Linked DNA regions of Homo sapiens: all the other regions are linked to region 1. Evidence: fine-mapped expression QTL. A gene starts in region 1. Each other region holds a variant in brackets. All regions are shown on one strand. Distances are from middle to middle.

Region 1 (4,161 bases):
CACTTGAGCCCCAGAGGCAAAGGTTTCAGTAAGCCGAGATCGTGCCACTGCACTCTAGCTTGGGCTACAGAGTGAGACTCCATCTCACACACACACACACAAAAGAAATGAAAACAACAATTTGTACATGAGTTCAAAACAGAATTATTTATTTCCCAAACTAGAAACAATCCAAATGTCTATCAACAGATAAATGGATAAGCAAATGATGACACAATTGCATTAATGGAATACCACTCAGCAATGAAAAGGAACAAACCACTCATACCTACAACACAGATGAGCCTCAGAAACGTGATGCTAAGTGAAAGAAGCCAGACCAAAAAAATTATATGCTATTATTCCATTTCTATGAAATTTCTGGAAAAGGCAAAAACCATGCAAAGTAGATCAGAGGTTGGCTGGGGGTGAGAGCAGAGACTGACTACAAATAGGCCCAAGGGAACGTTTTGGGGTGATGGAAGTTTTCTATAAGTGGATTATGGTGATGGCTACACAACAGTATAAATTAAAGGTCATCCAAATGTGTACTTACAATGTTTGAATTGTATGACATGTAAATTATCTCATTAAATCTGTATTTTAAAAAAAGAACTGTGCTGTGAAGTTTGACATATTTTAAAGTAGGATGTCTTAGCCGGGCATGGTGTTGCATGCCTGTAGTCCTAGCTACTCAGGAAGTTGAGGCTAGAAGATTGCTCGACCTCAGGAGTTCAAGGCTGCAGTAAGCTATGGTCATGCCACTGCACTCCAGCCTGGGCAACAGAGCAAAGACCTGGTCTTTATAAAAATTAAAAACCGGCCGGGCACAGTGGCTCACACCTCTAATCCCAGAACTTTGGGAGGCTGAGGTGGGTGGATCACTTGAGGTTAGGAGTTCGAGACCAGCCTGGCCAACATGGTGAAACCCTGTCTCTACTAAAAATAAAAACATTAGCTGGGCATGGTGGCACACACCTGTAGTCCCAGCTACTTGGGAGGCTGAGGCAGGAGAATCGCTTGAACCTGGGAGGTGGAGGTTGCAGTGAGCCCAGATCGCGCCACTGCCCTCCAGCCTGGAGACACAGCCAGACTCCATCTCAACAATGACATCAAAAAAAGGCCGGGCACGGTGGCTCACGCCGGTAATCTCAGCACTTTGGGAGGCCAAGGCGGGCGGATCACGAGGTCAGGAGTTTGAGACCAGCCTGGCCAAGATGGTGAAACCCCATCTCTACTAAAAATACAAAAATTAGCTGGGCGTGGTGGCGGGCGCCTGTAATCCCAGCTACTTGGGAGGCTGAGGCAGGAAAATTGCTTGAACCCGGGAGGCGGAAGGTGCAGTGAGCTGAGATCACACCACTGCATTCCAGCCCGGGCGACAGTGCGAGACTCCGTCTCAAAAAAAACAAAAAAAATCTAAAACTCAAACTTCTGAATAACAATTTCCTCCTAGCAAGAAGGGACTCAGTAAGATAAGAAGCGCTGCTTGGCTACTTTGCAAATGTCTGGCTTAAGATGGCTGGTTTTTTGTATCTGCCTCTGCATTTAACCTGGTCCATCTCGCGGGTCACATAGCCTCTACAAAATGAGAAGGGGTTCAATACCGTTAACTCCGGGCCTGGGTAAAAGACTCAAGTCCTGACCCCATCATACTCCAACCAATACATACCCCGCCTGCGCTGTCTGCGCCTGGGTCTCTTCAACCGCAGTGAGCGGTCGCACGGCTCCACATCAGGGTCGCCCTGAGGCTCAGCCTTCCCCGGCCCCATTCCGAGTGCGCACAGGACTGAACGAGCACGCCCGGTCCCTGCTCCGGAGCGGAGGACACGACGCGGACCCGCACGGTGCACCGCAGTGACCTGAGGAAGGAGCGACGGGCGCTCGCGCCAAAGGCGTCCGAGTGCCTGGTAAACTGTAAAGCGCGGTCCTGCGTGAGTTGCTATGGCTACAGCTGCGCCAGGCGGACGGCCTGCAGGACCGAGGTGCAGCTGGGACGAGCGGAAAGCTCTGCGCGTGGGCGGGGAGCCCGGAGCCTCGCCGGGGCAATGTCATCTAGGTGCTCGGCGCTCCACTGATCCGGCCCCCGGGGGTGGGCGGGCACGTTTGCCTCGGATGGTCTAACAGGCGTCGGGGAGAGCCAATGGTGTGGCTTCATGGCTCCACCCCCTTCCATTCGATTGGCCGGCGCCGAAAAGCCGGGCGTGAGCGGCCGCAGTTTCTGGAGGGAGCCGCTGCGGGTCTTTCCCTCACTCGTCCTCCGCGCGTCGCCGCTCTTCGGTTCTGCTCTGTCCGCCGCCATGGCCCAGTGAGTGACTCGCCAGGGGCAGCCCGGCTCGGCCTCAGCGGGCGGGGAACTCTTTGGGGGTCGAGATCTCCCTCGTTCTCTCCGACGCCTCCCACCCTGGGGGTCGCCTGAGCTCACTTGGGGCTCTGTGACCCTGGCCCTACGGCGTCTCGGGCCCAGAGCTCCTTCCCTGCGGGCCCGGCCCCCTGCCCTCTCGGCCGCGCAGGCATGGGGCGGGGCGGGTCCCTTCGAGGGCCAGGGAGGAGGCGCGGCCAGGCCTCGCCGAGTCTGCAGGGACACCTGCGGGACGCGTGCCAGCGGGAGCCGGGCGCGAGGGCGGGGCTGGGGGCCGCCTGCCCGGCCGAGGCTCTGCAGCGTGCGCGCCCGGCTTCTGGGGGCCCGCGGGAGGCGCGGAGGAAAGTGCAGACTCCCAGTCACGGCCAAATGTGGAAGGACCGGACCCCTGGGTTGCAGCGCGTCGAGCGGTGCTGACTCTTTCCTTTGTTCTGTTTCTGCCTCTCTAGAGCTGACATCGCGCTGATCGGATTGGCCGTCATGGGCCAGAACTTAATTCTGAACATGAATGACCACGGCTTTGTGGTAAGCGGCGTGGGCGCGTTGTCTTCTCTCTGGTTCCCGGGCGCTTTAGCCGAGGCCGGCGATAGGTTTGGGAGCTTACGGGTCTCCTGGCCGTGCTTTGCTAATGTGCTCTGTTGCTGCTCGTGGCATTTTTGTATGGAAAGGAGAAGCACCCTGTAGGCGTGGGCGGGCCGATCCCGAACTTAGTCCTGCGGAGTGTGCCTGTGGGTCCGTGAGGTTCACAGCCCGAATGAACGAATTAGTGTCTTAAGTAGAGAAGAAGGGTGCGGGAGGAGAACCCTTGCTGGCTGTGTAGAGCTCTAACTTGATTGCCTGATGAGATCTGGGGAGAGTGAAAATGTTTCTTCTAAATGTTAAAGTGGCTTAGACGCCAGGATGATCAATAACAACAGATAGAGCCTGTTGAACCGGCCAGTTCCTGGATTTGATTTTGAGTCCTAACACGTTGGGTGTGGATTCTACCTGACACACCGGGGGTAGTTGGCCTTCGCCTCGGTTGTCCGCCGTTTTCATCCTACTGAGGTGACATAACTTTACAGTGAGCCTCCCACAGCTGGGGGAAGAAAAGGCAAAGGCAGGTCTGACCTCCCCAGAACTTGGGTTGAATGGAAAGGTCATTGTTACTTTGGCCACAGTCTGAAAGTCTTGTGTGTCCTGGATCTCCTACTCAGGACTTTTGTCCTTCTAGGTCTGTGCTTTTAATAGGACTGTCTCCAAAGTTGATGATTTCTTGGCCAATGAGGCAAAGGGAACCAAAGTGGTGGGTGCCCAGTCCCTGAAAGAGATGGTCTCCAAGCTGAAGAAGCCCCGGCGGATCATCCTCCTGGTGAAGGCTGGGCAAGCTGTGGATGATTTCATCGAGAAATTGGTGAGGCCAGCTGTGCTCTCAGCTGCTACCACGATAGCAGCTGTTTTTGGTTTCTTCCTTTAGTTCTCCTTCTTTTAACTCTAGAGATTTTTTTTTTTCAATTTCTGCTAAGCTCTGACCAAATGATTGCTTAACTGTTGCAGTGTTGGTTAACTTGATAAGCGCTTATGAAGTAACTTTGTCCTTTGGTGGTAGTAATTCTGAGAATACTAACAGACATTTCAATAAACATTAAGGCGGGGCACAGTGGCTCAGGCCTGTAATCCCAGCACTTTTTGGGAGGCTGGTTCAGATGGATCGTTTGAGCCCAGGAGTTCGAGACCAGCCTGGGCAACATGGCGAAACCCTGTCTCTACATAAAATTAAAAAATTAGCTGGGTATGGTGGTGTAAGCTTATGGTCCCAGCTACAAGCTTATGGTCCCAGG
Region 2 (4,161 bases), 60 kb before region 1:
AATAGAATATGGGACATGTCTAACAATTATGAAGGTAAAGGTGTATAGACTCAATATTCATATTTTATTCATTGCCTTTCCTCAGACAGCCCTCAGTCCATATAATTTTCCAGTCACTATTATTTGTTGGACAGATAAACAGAAGTAAGGCAACTGGGGAAAAATACGTTTTTATACTACTTTACCATGTATCTGCCCCTGCCTTTTTTTCAGAGTGACTTTTCGTCTGTTGCAATGACTCGTTCTGGTCTGTCCTTGGAGGAGTTGAGGATTGTGGAAGGACAGGGTCAGAGTTCTGAGGTCATCACTCCTCCAGAAGAAATCAGTCGAATTAATGACTTGGGTATGTAGACATAGTTTACTGTGCTTGGGGACATTTTCGACAAAGGGAAAATATTGACCATTATCAAGGGACATAGTGGCCTTCATCAACTAGGAATGGAAAGCATGCCCAACTCCCTCCTCTTTGCATTATTTGAACCATCTGTGTCTTCATTTGACCCTCTTTAGATTTGAAGTCAAGCACTTTGCTGGATGGTAAGATGGTAATGGAAGGGTTTTCTGAAGAGATTGGCAACCACCTGAAACTGGGCAGTGCCTTCACTTTCCGAGTAACAGTGTTGCAGGCCAGTGGAATCCTCCCAGAGTATGCAGATATCTTCTGTCAGTTCAAGTAAGCTGCCCCTTTGCTCTGCCTCCCAGCTAGCTGCTAACCGAGGTGACATCTCTTGTGCACTGTAGAGTGCTTTACATGTGTGAGGGATTAACACTCTTGAGACAAAGACTGATCAGTCTCTGAAGGAAAATACTTTCATCACTCCTATGGGAGTGAGAACCAGAAACCTGTCCTGGAATGCAACAGGGTTCCCTGGCAGGAGGAGCATGCTGCACATCCTGCTGCAGGGCTCTGCTGTGAGCGGTCCCCCTTTACCAGGAATGTAGGGTCTGATCACATAAGCCTGTTGATGAGTCTTTCTAGTCCTCTTCATGTTGAAATGTCTTATTAATAAGCCTGAAAGCAATGACTTATCTAGCTAGCAATTACGCCTATTTAATACTCGGGAAAAGGAAAATTTAAACAATGTAAAGAAGGATAAATTCTACATCAACTGAAAAAAGCTAGTATGTAGGGAAGATGTGATACCTCTCATTTCTCATCTACATAGGACTTGCTCTTTCCCGCGGCCCTCTCAAACCCTGTGCTCTGGATGCTTTCTTCTCAAGACTGCCCCAGGAAAACATTTTTTTGTGAATCTTCAGTTTTAATACCTCCAAACTTCAATTTGTCTTTTCAGTACTTGGAAAGGGCCACAGTACAAGAGACTGAAGTGTGACCCCTCCATACCTACCGCCCTCAGTTTGCCACTGGTGCCACCAAGAGGCTGCTTTGGGTTCTGCCATCCCTCTCCCCTCAGAATGTGCCTTGGCCGTCCCATGGGTCCTAGTGCAGTTTATAAAGCTTTTGTATAGGTTTTATCACAGAAAATTGAGTCAAATGTGATTTAAATTAAATGTGATCACTATATAGTAAGCCACTAATATCATTTGCTACAAGTCATAGTTGTTGGAATATTACCCATTGAGCATTGATTTCACCTATTTAATGTGTTTTCACTCATACCCTCAAACTTAGGGCAGGATAGTGTTCACCAGATGAATCTGTTTTTTGGAACTGTTGCTATTATTCTAATCAGGCAACTGATACGTTTTATGGAAAACATCTATTTGGTTAACTGATGTCTGAAGTGACAATAATAGTGAGTTGACCTTTGTCCTACAATCTCCTAAAAAGAGCAGCATCTCTACCTGGTGTTAGCTCTGGGGAAAAGGGCATGTTGCTTCTGTTGAAAGCAGCCTCAAAGGCGTCCTGTGTTTTTATAGTCGCTCCTCTGGCCTGTGCCGGGAAGGTATGGCTGCAGAGCACTGTGAATGAGTTCACCTGTCGTCAGGGAACCCCAGGAATGCTGCGGTGCCAGCAATACAGGAATCAGGGATTTGGAGCACTTGGCAAAAGCATGCTAGTGTTCTCAGACGGGTGAACTAATTTGGAAGACAACAAGTTCATATTACCAGTCTGTCTGTCCCCCCA[G/A]TTGAAAATAGTTTCTTTTTCTCCATTTTTTCTTGATGGAAGGGGTGTCCTTCTGATGGATTTTTCTATCTGGCAGTAAATCTTTGTGTTGGGTCCTCTTTAACTGTGCAGTTCTTTTTATTTCAGACTAATAATAGGGAGAGAGAGAGAGAGAACGATAACATCTCACTATCTGTGAAAATAACTAAATATAGCCCATTGTTTTAACAAATCTTTCCAGAGTATCTTCTGTGTGTCGAGACCTGTGGGAAAACGCTTGCTGTCTGGGGGAGAGAGGCATATAAATACATTATTACAGTGAAATCATTGCTATTAAGGAAAAAAACATTACTAGTAATGTGGGAACACAAAGCTGCCAGGGTAAGTCAGGAAAGACTGCCTGGAAGAGGTGACATTTGAATCCACAACAGACTCTTATGTAACTATGCCATCCACAGGCTCTCGCACTAACTGTGGAAGCTTGAGTCTGCTAAATTTTGTCTGTACAAAATGACATTGTTTTTATTTTTAGTAAAAAGCTTTTACAAAGGAAGAGGAGTTAATTGAATGTACTTCTTCACTCTCTCTAAAGCATTCTTGCATATACCTCCATATAGCTAAGTGATCAGGGTCAGTTAATTTTTCAGTCATTTTTGAAATAAAATCTAAAATGCCCTCTGTGCAATATGGAAAAGGTTCTTGACAAGGAAAGTAAATAACTTAAAGAATCTGCTTAAGTGGAATGCTTCTTTCTGTAGGATCCACATTGGGCTCTTGAAAGAGATTCTGATAAAACCGTTTAATGCATTGTTCACGAGTCTTTTTATTTTTTTTATGAAGCTTTTTGCATCGCCATGATGAAGCATTCTCCACGGAGCCCCTCAAAAACAATGGCAGAGGAAGTCCCCTGGCCTTTTATCATGTGCAGAATGTAAGTGACATGGACCTTTTTGCCAAACATATGTTTTTCTGGTACCTTGGCTTTCTCAGCCCGGGAAGGGTGATAAGAAGAGGTACAAGTCACTGGCTGTGCAGGGGGAGAGTAGACAATAGAGGGCGTGGCTAGAGTGGTGAGGTCATCCACAGCGGCCTGAGCAGCAAGCCTTCTTGTCTGTGTTACAGTGGGCCTAGTGAATGTGGGTTCGTCTGCCAATAAAATCTTCCATCAGTTTGAATGCAATGAGTTGTTTTAGTGTTTCTGTCCTAGAAAAATAAGCATGCTTAATAAGAGTTTTATTAAAGTGAATGCATTGTCCTTTAAACCCTAAGATACTTATGTTGCTCGATTGCAAATAACATAAAAAATATCAAATACCTTCTGTAGCTAAATTAAGATTTAGATCTGTTTTCCTTGCAACTGATAGTATAATTAACACATTAATGCCCTTTACAACTGTATTCCTACGTGGAGTAAGAAAACAGACCCTTCCCTCTCTTACGTGAAATTTCATTCAAACTCTATTCCAAAGTCATTATCCTCATCACAATAGCTAATATTCACTGAGAGTTTATTTTGTGTTAGTCACTGTTCTGAGAGTTTTTGTGTAATTTAATCTTTACCTTTATACCATAGATTAAGATAATCCCTGTGTTAGCTGAGATGACTGAAGCATAGAGCAATTAAAGTCACTCATCAGGCTGGGCGCAGTGGCTCATACCTGTCCCGGCACTCTGGGAGGCCGAGGCAGGTGGATCACTTGAGGTCAGGAGTTTGTGACCAGCCTGGCCAACATGGTGAAATCCCATCTGAGACACGAGAATTGCTTGAACCCAGGATGGGGGGGTTGCAGTGAGTTGAGATTGTGCCACTGCACTCCAGCCTGGGCAAGAAAGCGAGACTCCCATCTCAAAAAAAATAAAAAAGTAATAATAAAAATAAAGTTACTCATCAGTGTTACAAGAGGCAGAGATAGGACTTAAGCTCAGAGAAATTTAGCTCTGGTATTCAGGATATTCACTACTACATGAAACTGTCTCTCATTCTCTTGCTAACCATGTCTGCTCTCTAAAGTAAGAGAGGAAAGGAGAACTTCAAAGATGGAACAAGCAAACACAAAATATGCCATCTTCTTTTTCATGTTGGTATAAATATA
Region 3 (4,161 bases), 330 kb before region 1:
TACTAAAAATACAAAAATTAGCCAGGCATTTTGGCAGGCGCCTGTAGTCCCAGCTACTCGGGAGGCTGAGACAGGAGAATGGCATGAACCCGGGAGGCAGAGGTTGCAGTGAGCCAAGATCACGCTACCGCACTCCAACCTGGGTGACAGAGCAAGACTCCGTCTCAAAAAAAAACCAAAACAGAACTAGGAGTTATTGTCATCTTTCCAAGGAGACTACCCCAAAGAGAAAGTATTTCCAATTATTTTTCTTTATATTGGAATTCACTTTTTTTTAAAGTAGAAAAGTAAGACACTTTTGTAGAATGACTGTTTATTAAACTTATAACAGTGTTTTGTGGGTGTTTTTCCCCACAAACTGCTAAAAATAAGAGGAACAGTTTGGCCCATCCTGTCTTAGCTTCTGCCTGCAATCACAATGGCCTTCACTGTTTTGAATCTATTTTTAGTTCATCAGGAACGTGAGGGTGGGAAGTGCTGCGTCATATAACAGATTAGGAGAAAGCCCTATTTTAATGTCGTTTGTGAAATAAGAACTGAAACAGACAAGAAAAACTCTAGGAATGAGATTTCATGATTAGTATGTGTGGCTTTGAGTTGTGGTTTAGGACACAAATTGAGGAATTGGAAGTTCTTTATACTTTTTTTTTTCTCTGTGAGATAGGGGAAAACAAAATTCTCTTAAAAAAGGACTTTTGTTTAACTTAAAGGAGATTATGCCAGTCCTTTGGGTTAATGTTAAAAAAGTCAAGTAAACAATGAGAAAAATGTTTAATCATATTTTGGTGTGTTGTGACTATTTTTTGGTGTGTATCTCATATGTTCTGTTTGTGATAAAAAGTGAGGTTGCATCTCTTAGTAGTCAAATTAATTAGATACACTTTTTTTTTTTTTTGAGACCCGGCTCTCACCGGGTTGCACAGACTGGATTTTATGGCTCTCTGCAGCCTTGACCTTCCCAGACTCAGGTGATCCTCCCATCTCAGTATTTGTTGTTGTTGTTGTTGAGATGGAGTCTCACTCTATGGCCCAGGCTGGAGTGCAATGGCGTGATCTCAGCTCACTGCAAGCTCCGCCTCCTGGGTTCACGCCATTCTCCTGCCTCAGCTTCCCGAGTAGCTTGGACTACAGGTGGCCACCACCATGCCTGGCTAATTTTTTTGTATTTTTAGTAGAGACAGGGTTTCACCGTGTTAACCAGGATGGTCTCGATCTCCTGACCTTGTGATCCGCCCACCTCAGCCTCCCAAAGTGCTGGGATTACAGGGGTGAGCCATCATGCCTGGCCAGTTTTTTTTTTTTTTTTTAAGATGGAGTCTTGCTCTGTTGCCCAGGTTGGAGTGCAGTGGCACAATCTTGGCTCACTGCAACCTCCGCCTCCTGGGTTCAAGTGATTCTCCTGCCTCAGCCTCCCAAGTACCTGGGATTACAGGTGCCTACCACCACACCTGGCTAATTTTTGTATTTTTAGTAGAGATGAGGTTTCAGTATGCTGGCCAGGCCGGTCTCAAACTCCTGACATGAAGTGATCCCACCTACCTTGGCCTCCCAAAATGCTGGGATTACGAGCATGAGCCACTGCACCTGGCACAGTTTT[CTTTTCTTTTTTCT/C]TTTTCTTTTTTTTTTTTGAGCAGGAGTCTCGCTCTGTTGCCCAGGCTGGAGTGCAGTGGTGCGATCTCAGCTCACTGTGACCTCCTCCTCCCGGGTTGAAGTGATTCTCCTGCCGCGGCCTCCTCAGTAGCTGGGATTATGGGCGCGTGCCACCATACCTGGCTAATTTTTGGTATTTTTAGTAGAGATGGGGTTTCCCCGTGTTAGTCGGGCTGGTCTCGAACTCCTGACCTCGGGCCATCTGCCTGCCTTGGCCTCCCAAAGTGCTGGGATTACAGGCATGAGCCACTGTGCCCGGCCAGTTTTTGTATTTTTAGTAGAGCCGGTGTTTCTCCATGTTGCCCAGGCTGGAGGTAAACCTTTATACCTGTGATTGCACAAAGCCATTCTCTTGTGAGTCCCCTATCCAGATATTCCCAGGGCCTCAGGTTGCTAAACCAGTTCAAAGTTAACACCAGTGTAGAAGGCATTCAGACCACCCAAGGGCATTATCCTCTACTGAGAGCCCTGCTGTGGGCAGCCCAGAACGCTGCCCCCTGCATGGCTCTTCCTAAATTTTCCAGCGGATCTTTAAGATGGGGCAAAATGTATTCTCCCAATCTTCTCCTACTCCTTCTGTCATGTATGGACCTGCCTCTGTCTCTTAACTCTTTCTTCCTGCTTAATAGTCTGCAACATGCTTCACAAAGTCTTGATTCTTCAACCTTTTTTGAAACCTTAGAATCCTTTCTTTCTTCAACCGCATATTATAGTGAGTCAGAACATTTATTCTCTGTTTATATCACTGAGTAGAACATCTGAATTTAACATCTTGGGCTGAACTTGGCATTGAGGTTTAAGGTGACTTCATATTTTTTCCAACAATAGTGGGTATGCTCTTCCAATGATAATGATAACGTCAACTAATAAATTAGTCAATTTTATGTTCAGTGCATTTTTCTAGTATTTCTCATTTATTCAGCAGATATTTAGAGAGTACCTACCATGTGTCAGACACTGTTCTAGGCACTGGTGCAACGGAAGTTCTTGCTTTTAAGAAACTTCAATTAGGGGGATGGTAACTAAGCAATACACAAATAAATATATCACACATGTCATAGGGCAGATCAGAGCCACGGAGAAAAAATAAGTAGGGAAAGGGACAGGGTGGTGGTTTTCTCACAACCCTGTAAGGAAGATACTGGTTTTTTTCTTATTTTTTTGAGACGGAGTCTCACTTCATCGCCCAGGCTGGAGTGCAGCGGTGCGATATTGGCTCACTGCAACCTCCGCCTCCCAGGTTCAAGCGATTCTCCTGCCTCAGCCTCCCAAGTAGCTGGGATTGCAGGTGTGTGGCACCATGCCTGGCTGATCTTTGTATTTTTAGTAGAGACAGGGTTTTGCCGTGTTGGCCAGGCTGGTCTCGAACTCCAGACCTCAAATGATCCACCGCCTCGGACTCCCCTCGGCCGATGATTTCATCCCCATTGTACAGATGTGCAGTGTACGGATGTCCATTGTGCAGAAACTGAAGCAGAGAGCTGTTAAGTGACTTATCTGGATAGGCTCCAGATAAGTAAAGTAGTCAGTAATAAAGGTTGAATTTGAATTAGAAATCAAGCATGAACTCCTAAATTTAGCTGTCTGTAAGATAATGAAACTTGGCCCGGCATGGTGGCTCACACTTGTAATCCCAGCACTTTGGGGGGCCGAGGTGGAAGGATTGTTTGAGCCCAGGAATTTGAGACCAGCCTGGGCAACATGGTGAGATGCCATGTCTACAAAAAATTAAAAATTAGGTGGGTGTGGTGGTGCATGCCTGTAGTCCCAGCTACTTGGGAGGCTGAGACAGGAGAATCGCATGAACCTGGGAGGGGGAGGTTGCAGTGAGCCGAGATGGTGCCATTGTACTCCAGCCTGGGTGACAAGAGCGAAACTCCGTCTCAGAAAAAAAAAAAAATTACATGCTACACAGAAGACTATATTTAACATATAAACTATGAAGAAGAATAAGATGAATACCCATGAACTGATTACTCATAGTTGTAAGTATACAACCCAGTGAGTTTTCATAAAGTGGACATAGCTGTGACATTAGTATCCAGTTAAAATTAAAAAAAAAAAAAAAAAACCATTACCAGATCCCTAGAATCTCACTCCTGCCTCTCCCGAGCTGCTTCCTGCCCCTTTCCCACCAAGGATAACCATTATCCAAACTAATGGTATAGTTTAGTTTTTCTTATTTTCAAATTTTATAGAAATGGAATCATCCACTCTGTTTTTTTTACATCTGGCTTCTTTTGCTCAGGGGACATGGGTAAATCTGTTAGGAAGCTTTTGGAGATGCCCTGCTGTTAGTAGGAGTTCAACAAACACATTTTGAATGAATGGATTAATTTTTCTCTTTCAATAAGATGTTGCTCTTTAATTATATGTTAAAAGGAAGAAGTGGCAGATTGTATTTTTATTGAATCAAGTAAAAAAAGAAAATCTGATCATTTTGCTCCTACAAGTGATGGTTAAATTTGTGTCTTAGTGTAACTTTTGTTTCTCATTGTTTTAGTGAATTAA
Region 4 (4,161 bases), 97 kb after region 1:
TGGAGCTCTAAAGGTTTGAAGTTACCAATGCCTGGAGCTTTGGGAGGACAGGAGGCAGGGAGGCAGGGGAAGCTTGCTCACATTCCCTGAGACGGACCCTCACTTTCTAGATCGTTTCCTGCTGGCTGACCTCTTGTCCTGGGGTGGTGAGGCTCTTGGGACAGGACTTCGGATGGAGGGATAGAGGCCTTCACCCAGCAGAGTGCTTGCCACTGTGCTGTGTGCCAGCTAATGTGGTAGTAGCTGGGCATGAGGAATTTTTGGGAACCCTCTGCAGACCGGGCCTCTGTCCTTTTCCAAGGCGGCCTGGCACTTCCATCTGATCTGTAATAGCCGGGAGAATGGAGGCTGCAGGCTGTCTCCTGGGACACACAGATTTTGCTGCACTTGTCTGGATATTAACTGTAGATAGATGGCAATTGGCCTGACCATCAGTCACAGTAAACTAATCATAGCTCACTTAGCAGCATACCTGCTTACTTTATTCTTTTGGAGATTTGTAAATTTCTTCAGAATCTGTCTCTACCTCTGCCTCTCCCTTTCTCTAAATTTTGGCCAGATCAGTCAAGGGTCGAAGGCGCCTGTGAGGGTGAGGTAGTGGCCCCAAGGAAGAGGAAACGGGCTAGAGCCAGGGCCTCGGCCACAGTGCTGCCTGCTCGCCTGGAGGTTGGTCTGCTTATATGCCAGCCTGTCACTAGCTTATTTCCAAGAAGGATTTAAGCCTGGGGCTTTCTTTACTATTGTGGGGTGGTGTCCTTAGTGGCAGGTGATGAATAGGAACCTGTGTAGTTTACTGGCTTCTGGGCTCCAGAAACTAGATGCCCAGAGAAAATCCTGAGCGTGGGCAGCTGGGGCCCCCTGGTGGTGGAATCTGGTTCTCCACTGCTGCGCGACTTTTCTTCCCAGTCCCCTGACGTTGGGGAGGTGGCAGAAAGAGGAGGTGTTGTGCTCTCTCTTCAGGCCTTTTCTCTGGACTCTACTCTTCCCGTGGATTTTGGGATGGTCCCCAGCCCTTGCTGCTCAGTAGGTGATCGTGGGCCTTCCTGAGCAGAACCAAGCCTTGTTCTTGGAGTGGTGTGACAAGTGAACCCAGAAACAGTCTTCATCTTCCCTGGTGAATTCAGACTCTTTGGGCTACTTTTTACAGGTAGTCCACTGCAAAATACTCTTGTGTCGTGAAAAACCAGTGAGAGATGTGAGAAAGAGGTGCCAGCGTGCATCGTTTGAGAACGGAACATCTTTGGTTTTTTGATGTCCATTGGGTGGCACTGTGATCTTATTTTTGTTTCCATTTTTCTCTGCAGCCAAGCTCTACTCCAGGAAGTGAAAATGTGCTGCCTCGAGAGCCGCTGGTAAGTACCCAAGATATGTGGTATCACTTTCTAGTAATTAAAATGCCACGCGAGTGAAAAGAAACCTTCTGTTCCTATGGTTCTGCGTCAGTAGTGTCCCTTTAAAAGTAGCTGTTACCTAGAGACTGCCTCTGTCAGTGACCTCTGACTTCTCTTCTCGCGTGTGGGGACGAGTGAGATCTCTCCTTAGTAAAGGCTGGTCCTTTCTAGGACTAAAAGCATCCACCCCAGATGGTCCTGCACCACTTTGTTTGTGGCTGATCAATAGTAATTAGTGAGATTCCTGCGCCCGTGGGAGGCTGAGGTGGAGTGAGGTGGCTGGGCTTCTAGATTGTTTGAAGTAGCCGCCCTCTGCTCTGCCCCTCAGGGTGCGAGCGCCTCAGTGGTCTTTAAAGAACAGGTAAGCGATGGAATTCTGGTTTTGCCTGGTCAGTAATTGTGTGATTGTCATTCCCAACGCTGTCTTCTTAGACTATGGATAGGGAAGAGGCCTATTAAGCACTGCAGGTAATTTTCTCTCCCAAGTGCTTTTCATTTGGTGGCCAGAGTCCCAGGCTGCCCACCCCATTTTCATTCTTTTTTGCTTTTCAGGGCCTGCTGTAAGTCCTCTTGGCTGGGTAGTAAGACTGGCTCTGTATAAACCAGATAAGTTTGATGGGAGAGCCAGCTCTAGGTTTAACTTTTCAGAGCTTTTTCTTCCTGCGTAGCGATAGCAGGCGTAGGGCTGTACTGCCAAGGCTTTGTTTCAGCAGGGCCTGTGGTTTCACCTGTTCTGCTTCACTCCCCTTCTGGCAGTCGCGGGAGGAGATGACGTGAGGGACTTAGCGGGTATGAACACGTCTGAATTCCAGTGTGTACGAAGGCTTTCCCAGGCTGAGGGCGAGTTGGATCCAGTTGAGCTGTCTGTAGAAAGGCCGAGGTGATACAAGCACTGCTGGGACTGTTTCAGGGGAGCAGTGTTGTCATTCATGTCACCTGCTGTTACGTCACCAGTTACGGGCTTATAT[C/T]CCAGCACTCCCACGGTGGCCTCGTTTCACTCTTTTGGTATTGCCCAGTTCCTTCCTTGAGGTCATGGTGGTGGGAAAGCCCAGGAGGCCCCACCTTGCTAGTCTCTCCGGACGTCTGCCTGCTTCCCTGGGGCCTGCCTCAGTGCCCCTCAGGCCGAAGTTGTGGTTGTTTTAGACTGAAGTGCAGATTGAACACCATAGGCCGCTGCAGTCCTTTCCTTCCTCTCTCTTTTCAAATTTTGATGTACCCATTTAACTGGTCATCGGAGGAGTGGCCAGTCCATCTTTTGGGGCTTGATTCGACAAGCTCTTTGGGAGCCCTGAGCAGTTGGCCAGCTCACTGATTTCTGGTATTTGGAGCCCTGCAGACCCCTTGCTCTGCTAGTGTTTCTGTGCCCTGCTCTTCCTGCTGTACTGTGCATCTGCTTGTTGGTTGGTTGTATTTTTATTTCTTTCTTTTCTGGGAGGCCCTGAGCAGTCTTCAAACCCTAGTAGCCTGTGATCGTCCAGAGTTCAGACTCATTCTCTCCAGGCCAACTCCACAATTACCTTATATTTAATTAATATTTTTTCTCCTCTTTACGTACTTGCTGCATAATTGCTCAGAGGAAAGAAAACACATAGCGGCAATTTATATATATATATAAAATAATAATTAAAAAAACCCCCGAAATAAACTCCCATCTCATTTGGGCTGATCCTATGAGTTGGGTAATTAGGGCCCTATTAAAAGGTAGACCCTTTCTCCTTCCCCCACTTTTTTGTTTATTAAATTTTTTATATTAAACTCCCACAGTCTCTCAGTCATGCCCTTATTGCTTTTGGCCAAGCATTTGCAGCAGCCTGATTAAACGGGGGCACCAGCTGAGTCGCGTGGTCTTGTGTGAACTGCTTCTTCCTCCTGGGAGTGGTGTTGGGAGGGTGTCAGGCAGAGGAGCCCGCTGAGGACTCGTGTGGCAGGGCGGGGGCACAAGATGGGCAGCCCCCTTGCACAGAAAGCCCCACAGCTCAGTGTGGTGGTGTTGCGGTTTGTGAAAACACACAGCAGTCAGCCCTTCCACAGGGAGGGAGCTTTCTCAGGCCATGTGTATTTGCTGTCTCCTGCATGCTCAGCTTAGCTCAGCTCAGGCCTGAGGATGGGGAACAGACAATTGAGGAATAAAACTAAACCTTGTTCTTGAGTAATTCACGTGTTTTACTTTGGGAAGAAAAGGCATTTATACATATGAAATAAGAGCAAACTGCACACGACTGTATGTAATTTTAGCAAATAGCACAACATTGTGTATCATTTGGTGCAGAGCTGCCTGGTTGGGCGTAGAAGAGAGCCCCAAGTTATTCAGAGCAGGAAGAGCTCTGCGGAGGGCGAGGGCCACTTAGGGATGGCTTTTGGGAAACTTGAAGCCAGGCCTTGAGGAATGGGATATTTCAGTGTTGGGGGAACACACTGCTAAGTTGTTTTGTTTTTGTGTTTATTATTGTTAATTTTTTCATTTAAGCTTCGGGAAATACATATTCTTTTTGTTTTTAACTGAATGCATATTTTTCATACAATTCCTTAATGGAAGTTGCCTGGTCTCTACACTAAAGGCAAATAATCTTATTCTTTGTCCCAGACTAGATGATCACTTTGAAATAATTTTTCCCCTTATTAAAAAAGTAAGTTACTGGCCAGGTGCAGTGGCTCATGCCTATCATCCCAGCACTTTGGGAGGCCAAGGTCGGGGGATCACTTGAGGCCAGGAGTTTGAGACCAGCCTGCACAAAATAGAGAGACCCCATCTCTATTATAAATTTTAACA

Direction of the effects. Alleles are on the strand shown, and positions count from the first base shown. SD is a standard deviation of normalised expression in the study named. Not every link is listed here.
For the expression in CD4 T cells of the gene that starts at base 2,226 in region 1, CTTTTCTTTTTTCT is the low allele of the variant in region 3 and C is the other (large effect, 1.8 SD a copy in BLUEPRINT).

Evidence for each region. PIP is the estimated chance that this variant, and not a neighbour inherited with it, causes the effect.
Region 2: its variant is fine-mapped to the expression of PGD in whole blood (TOPMed, PIP above 0.99).
Region 3: its variant is fine-mapped to the expression of PGD in CD4 T cells (BLUEPRINT, PIP 0.95).
Region 4: its variant is fine-mapped to the expression of PGD in whole blood (TOPMed, PIP above 0.99).

Annotation. Positions count from the first base shown.
Region 1 is chr1:10,396,839-10,400,999 of GRCh38, forward strand. It overlaps PGD (phosphogluconate dehydrogenase), which reads left to right and starts at 2,226. Exons shown (of 13, transcript NM_002631.4): 1 at 2,226-2,287; 2 at 2,791-2,866; 3 at 3,555-3,734. The coding sequence starts at 2,280. RefSeq lists an enhancer at 1,614-1,923 and silencers at 2,404-2,723, 2,816-2,992.
Region 2 is chr1:10,336,861-10,341,021 of GRCh38, forward strand. KIF1B (kinesin family member 1B) reads left to right here. Exons shown (of 49, transcript NM_001365951.3): 30 at 214-343; 31 at 511-673; 32 at 2,909-2,999. Among named protein-coding and RNA genes, the nearest start is that of PGD, 60 kb to the right of the region's middle. The variant G/A (reference allele first, on the strand shown) is at 2,090.
Region 3 is chr1:10,066,740-10,070,900 of GRCh38, forward strand. The region is part of intron 1 of UBE4B (ubiquitination factor E4B); the gene reads left to right. Among named protein-coding and RNA genes, the nearest start is that of UBE4B, 36 kb to the left of the region's middle. The variant CTTTTCTTTTTTCT/C (reference allele first, on the strand shown) is at 1,598.
Region 4 is chr1:10,493,970-10,498,130 of GRCh38, forward strand. It overlaps PEX14 (peroxisomal biogenesis factor 14), which reads left to right. Exons shown (of 9, transcript NM_004565.3): 2 at 1,305-1,352. Among named protein-coding and RNA genes, the nearest start is that of PEX14, 21 kb to the left of the region's middle. RefSeq lists a silencer at 703-997 and an enhancer at 1,460-1,519. The variant C/T (reference allele first, on the strand shown) is at 2,360.